Homo sapiens: one gene and its partner. The protein of the gene in region 1 interacts with the protein of each later gene in a biochemical or structural test. Each region holds a gene or a part of one and is shown on either strand. Other genes may lie near its edges. The genes, in order: TAF12 and NFYB.

What was found.
Region 2: the proteins of TAF12 (region 1) and NFYB form a complex in vitro, tested with the Homo sapiens proteins (one study listed by BioGRID).

The regions. Positions count from the first base shown.
Region 1 is NC_000001.11:28,618,737-28,622,567, forward strand, and holds part of TAF12 (transcription initiation factor TFIID subunit 12), read right to left. Parts: intron 3,430-3,831; coding exon of another isoform or gene 3,346-3,429; coding exon 3,178-3,345; intron 1-3,177. UniProt on the Homo sapiens protein: The TFIID basal transcription factor complex plays a major role in the initiation of RNA polymerase II (Pol II)-dependent transcription.
Region 2 is NC_000012.12:104,118,568-104,121,210, forward strand, and holds part of NFYB (nuclear transcription factor Y subunit beta), read right to left. Parts: intron 1,913-2,643; coding exon 1,833-1,912; intron 1,203-1,832; coding exon 1,170-1,202; coding exon of another isoform or gene 1,165-1,169; 3' UTR 1-1,164. UniProt on the Homo sapiens protein: Component of the sequence-specific heterotrimeric transcription factor (NF-Y) which specifically recognizes a 5'-CCAAT-3' box motif found in the promoters of its target genes.

The DNA of each region.
Region 1 (3,831 bases):
ACTTCCTCCTTTGGCCTCTACTGTATCCTGTGTACCCTTTATCATTGTGCATATTTATATACTTCCCTGTTTCTGACTTAATAGGCTAAAAGCTCCCTGAGGGCAGCCTTCATAAAGGAAATGTCATGTTACATACGTATGCCATTAAAAAGTAATCAAAAGAAAGCCAGGCACAGTGATCTGTGCCTGTAGTCCCAGCTACTCAGCAGGCTGAGGCAGGAGGATCACTTGAGGCCAGGAGTTAGAGACTGCAGTGAGCTATGATTGTGCCACTACACTCCAGCCTGGGGAACACAGGAAGACCTCATGTCTTAAGAAACAAACAAAAAAAAGGGCCTGGCACAGTGGCTCACGCCTGTAATCCCACCACTTTGGAAGGCCGAGGTGGGAGGACTACCTGAGCCCAGGAGTTCAAAGACCAGCCTGGGCAACATGGCGAGACTGCATCTCTATTTAAAAAAAACATCTACAAAATGGCTGGGTGCAGTGGCTCATGCCTGTAATCCCAGTACTTTGGGAGACCGAGGTGAGCGGATCACGAGGTGAGAAGACTGAGACCATCCTGGCTAACACGGTGAAACCCTGTCTCTACTAAAAATGCAAAAAAAAAAATTAGCCAGGCGTGGTGGCGGGCGCCTGTAGTCCCAGCTACTTGGGAGGCTGAGGCAGGAGAATGGCGTGAACCCGGGAGGCAGAGCTTGCAGTGAGACGAGATTGCGCCACTGCACTCCAGCCTGGGCAACAGAGTGAGACTCCATCTCAAAAAAAAAAAAAAATCTAAAAAATATATAAAAAATAAATTAAGAAAAAAGAAAAAGTTAGGCACTTGACCTCCTCAGTGCCCATTTGAGTCTCTTCCAAGTGTACTTTCCTTTCTTTCCTGCTCTAAACCTTCTAGTAAAATTCCACTGAAAAAAAAAAAAAAAAAAAAAAGCCGGGTACGGTGGCTCATGCCTGTAATCCTAGCACTTTGGGAGGCTGAGGCGGGTGGATAACCTGAAGTCAGGAGTTTGAGACCAGCCTGACCAACATGGCGAAACCCTGTCTCTACTGAAAATACAAAAATTAGCTGGGCATGGTGTGGGTGCCTATAATTCCAACTATTAGGGAGGCTGAGGCAGGAGAATAGCTTGAATTGGGAGGAGGAGGTTGCAGTGAGCCAAGATTATGCCATTGCACTCCATCCTGGGTGATAGAGCGAGACTCTGTCTCAAAAAAAAAAAAGAGAGAGAGACAGACAGAGGAAAAAAAGAAAAACACCAAAAGACATACACTAAAATGCTAACCATGGCTATTTTAGGGTGGTGGCATTAGAATTATAGGCTATTTATTCTTTGTGTATTTCTGAAGTTTCTGTGATGAACACATATAACTTTTGAAATAAGGAAAAAAGAAAAAAAATTTTTTTTTTTTTTGAGACGGAATCTCGTTCTATCACCCAGGCTGGAGTGCAGTGGTGTAATCTCGGCTCACTGCAACCTCTGCCTCCCGGGTTCAGGTGATTCTTTTGCCTCAGCCTCCTGAGTAGCTGGGACTACAGGTGTGCACCACCATGCCAGGTTGATTTTTGTAATTTTAGTAGAGATGGGGTTTCAGCATATTGGCCAGGCTGGTCTCGAACTCTTGACCTTGGGTTATCGCCTGCCTTGGCCTCCCAAAGTGCTGGGATTACAGGCGTGAGCTACCGCGCACACCCAAGAAAATAATTTTTTTTTTTGCAACAGAGTCTCGCTCTGTCGCCCAGGCTGGAGTGCAGTGGCGCAATCTCTGCTCACTGCAAGCTCCACCTCCTGGGTTCACGCCATTCTCCTGCCTCAGCCTCCCGAGTAGCTGGGACTACAGGCGCCTGCCACCACGCCTGGCTAATGTTTTTGTATTTTTAGTAGAGACGGGGTTTCACCGTGTTAGCCAGGATGGTCTTGATCTGACCTCGTGATCCGCCCACCTCGGCCTCCCAAAGTGCTGGGATTACAGGCTTGAGCCACCATGCCCGGCCGAACCCAGAAATTTGAGGCTACAGTGAGCTATGATTATACCATTGCACTCTAGCCCAGGCAACAGAGCAAAACCCTTTCTCTAAAAAAAATGAATAAATATTTGTTAATGATGTCTCATATCTATCCATTCTTCTTCATTCTATCATTATCACCTAATTCGAGCCTTCACTACATGTCTTGATTTATTGCAAAAATCTTAGAATTGGTCATCCACCCAGTCTAACCCCCTTTTCTACCCATCCTGTCCCCTTACTGCCAAGTTAATCCTCTATAGGACACACTATTTTTATTATGTTACTTTTACTCCTTTATTAAATATCTGCAAAGATTGTATATTGCCTAAAAGTTCCAATGGAAATTGACTAGTACAGGTCCACTATGTTCTGCCCTACCTATACAATTTTAAATTCTGTCTTCTACAACAGACTCCATATTCAACATAGGTTGATATCCTGACTGCCCAACCCGCTCTCATTAATCTTTGCAAGTCCCTCCACTCATTCCCTTGAAATACTGGGCGAACTCATCCATTCTACACAGCCTACAAAAAACAAGTCAAAGGGATTATACTTATTTCTTGTGGCTCTGGAGGGCAGAATCAGAATTATGGGTAGAAAGAATGGAGCAGATTTTAGAATCACTGCAGAAAATTAATAATGGCAGCAATTGGATGAACTAGAAGATGGAATGACTAGAAGCAAGAGTACTTTTATCATAGGAATAATGAATCAATTTATTATTTTATTTAACAACTACATGGTTAACATGTATATAAAGCACTTATCAAAATGAAAGGAAAAAAACACCTTTCATAGGCAAGGTATTGTGTTAGTGTGTACAGATGGATGGATGGATGTATATATGCATACACACAACCACATACAATACAGTAATTAATAAACATTGTACATGATAATTTGCTAAAGAATGTTCCCAGAGGAGTATACATTCAGGACAACTTGAATCTGTGTCTCCTGAATTGGGAGTCCTCAAATTTGGCCCAAATAAACTCTCTACTTATATTAAAACAAACAAAAAAAGTTAGAAATCCAAAAGAGGGAAAAGACCTTTTCGGCTAAGAGAAAAAAGCAGCATCTGAGATGGACATCTCTTAAAGTATTACAGATTGAAATAATAGGTAAGAAGTGGCTACAGAGAAGAAAGAGTAAGAGGATGATACCTGATTGTTTTCAGGGCTAAGACGACCTCCTGCCCCAGGAGTGCCTGGTATCTTTACCACTGCAGTACTATTGGCCATGGAGCCTTGTGGAGGGGTGCTGGCTGGTTCCGGTTTTATGGATGAGAAATTGGAGAGGTTGATTAGGGCTGAGGGGCCAAACTGGTTCATAATCTGCCGAGCTTTGGACTTCAGCTCATAGAGCTTATCGAGATCCTGTTTCTTTTTGGAGCTGTGAGGACCAAGGCCAATTAACTGGAGAAGAAAAGCACAAGAATTAGCTCTAGAAGAACCTGTAATAAAGGATGAATCTTGAGAGTAAAAAGAGGCCTGGTGCAATGGCTCACAACTGTAATCCCAGCACTTTGGGAGGCCCAGGTGGTAGCATCACTTGAGCCCAGTAGTTCAAGACCAGCTTGGGCAACATAGCGAGACCTAGTCTCTACCAAGAAAAAAAAAAAAAAAAAAAAGTAAGTAAAATGAGGTCTGTTAGACTTTGAGGGTTCTTCAGTATATATGGAATGGTGACCATTTAATATCCACAGGTTAAAAATTGAGGGAATGAAGAATGTTTATTACTCTCAGCTGATATTTAGAAACCATCTCATTTCCAAATATTAAGTGAAATAGTCCACAAAATTTAAACAAGGAAGCAAG
Region 2 (2,643 bases), on another chromosome or scaffold:
CAAAAAGAATAGATGAGAAAATACAAATCCTCACTTTTCAAAAAGAAACAATCCAAGTACATACTACTAAATTATACAAAGTTACATTATTTACGTTTAGTTTATTGCAGAGATGAAGACAGCATACTAGAAGTTGGCTTCTATTTCACACCGTTCACAGCACTCACTCTGTTCTCCATTTCATCCACTCACCCATGCAAAAGGTCTGTACACGCAATGATGTCTGATGTTTCTTGGTTTCCATAGTGTAACAGGAAACTTGACATTTCAATTAAAAAGGTAAAATGAAGACATTTACCATCAGACTATAAAACTCCTCTTCTGTAAGAGAATACTATAGTACTTGAAGATATGATTTGAAAAAAAATCATGTACCAAATGAAAGGGGCACCATTTCAAGAGCACTAGGACTACATTAAACTTAAATATATTCCCACATTCTTAAAAATGTAACTCAAAACCAAATCTAGTCTTAAAAAAGCTCCAGTAACTAAAACTACATTAACAGGCACGATGAACAGTGTAAACACTGTTAATGGGCACCAAGTTTAACAGGGCAGACAATATTTGCTTCTGCATTCACACTTATTCAATTACATTTTTTAAAAAAATGATGCTGCTTAAACTATTAATGTTTTACCAAAAAAATAATAATTTTAATAAATACAGCAAATGCTAGAAATCTAGCTAGGTTATCATGCAAGGTATAACCAAGACAAACTCAAATTTATAATAAAGGCAACTTGCATTCAAAATGAACTCTACCCTTATATTTTATTAAAAGGGCAAACATCATGAATTAACCCAGCCGCTTACTTGAATTACAAAAGTAACATGATTCAATATGAAAATAAGAAACTGTCTACAAATCTCTGACAGTAATAAATTGCAATATACAATGCATACAGGAGTCATACAGAGCAACAAACTCTCGTACAAAACAAAAATATTTTAATACCTTTAAAATCCAAATTTTTCTTTAAAATCATTCATGAAAAAGATTCTCAAGTCAGAATTAACACCTCAATTAGTCAAGCATCAGGAAGCTACATTACAGCTATTAATATACAAAGATACATCTTTTCACCAGTCTTTCCTTCTGATGTCTCTGTTCCAGAATCATACAGACTCTCATTTCTCTACACTCCCCATTCCATCATTTCTTCAGATCATGAAAACTGAATTTGCTGAACACCAGAAATCTAAGATTAGAAAATTTAAATTGAGCAGAATTAAAGAAAAGGAGATTAAAAGTACCATATGCATATTATAAAAATTCAGTGAATAAAAAGACAATAACAAGTCTAATTCCCATTTCTTGTGTATCTTTCTAGAAATCTCCTATGCAAATATGAACATATGCTTATTTTTAACTATTAAGAGAACACTATATACTGTTATCTACATTGAGAAAACACAATTTTAATAACCTTCTTTATCAGGTCCTTAATAGCATGTTGAAATTAACTATATCAATAGATATAATAAAAAAAAAATTTTTTTTTTGAGACAGAGTCTCACTCTATTGCCCAGGCTGGAGTGCAGTGGTGTGATCTCAGCTCACTGCAACCTCCACCTCCAGGGTTCAAGTGATTCTCCTGCCTCAGCCTCCAAGCAGAGGGGATTACAGGTACACGCCATGACGCCCAGCTAATTTTTGTATTTTTAGTAGAGACAGGGTTTCACCATGTTGGCCAGGCTGGTCTTGAACTCCTGACCTCAGGTGATCCACCCACCTCGGCCTCCCAAGGTGCTGGGATTACAGGCATGAGCCATGGGGCCCTGTCGATACAATCAAATTTTTTAAGCATTTAAAATACAAAGGACTGTACCTGTTGATATGATGTTGTGTAAACCATAACATTTTGTTGTTGACCGTCTGTGGTTATTAAGCCAGCTGGTAACTGGTTAGCTAAAAGAAAAAAAATTAGTTAAAGAGGGAAATGAACTATATCTACTTTCTTGGGTTGTATCTTAAGGTTGTACCATTAATGTCTCATTACAATTCTGCCCGGTATCAATGATGTAGTCTTGGACAAAATAATAAATCCTCCAATTTTCCATTTTAAAAAATGTTCCCTAAAAACCACATTATTTTATATTGCGTTTTTCAATTTTCCTATCTCTAACATGTACCTTAGCTAACTGCCCATGTGTACAAATCTGTAGACAGACTGGATGAAGTTTCTGATTCATGATTAAACTACACTACACCATGAGGTTTGGCTAGGAGCAACATATAACTGAGCAGCATATAGTTTACATATGAGAAATATATATAATGAGAAATTTACTCAACATAGCCCTTTTATTTCACCAATATGACAACATGATACTCAATTTAAAAAAAACTGAGTTGAAATTTATTTAAATCATAAGATTTTATATTACAAACTTTTCCTTAATATTCCTATCTCATATGAATCTTCACCAAAAACTAGGGGCTACAGAACTCAGTCAGAACTATCAGTGAAAGGTTATAATGTCTACAGAATTAAACTTTTCTACACTTATCACTCACTGACTTCAAATAAAAGGGCATGAACTGATAAGAACTATTTAAAATAGTGCTTTGTCAAAATACTCACTGCTGACATTCCAAAAATACCATTAGATACTTAGTATGAATCATTGCTAACAATC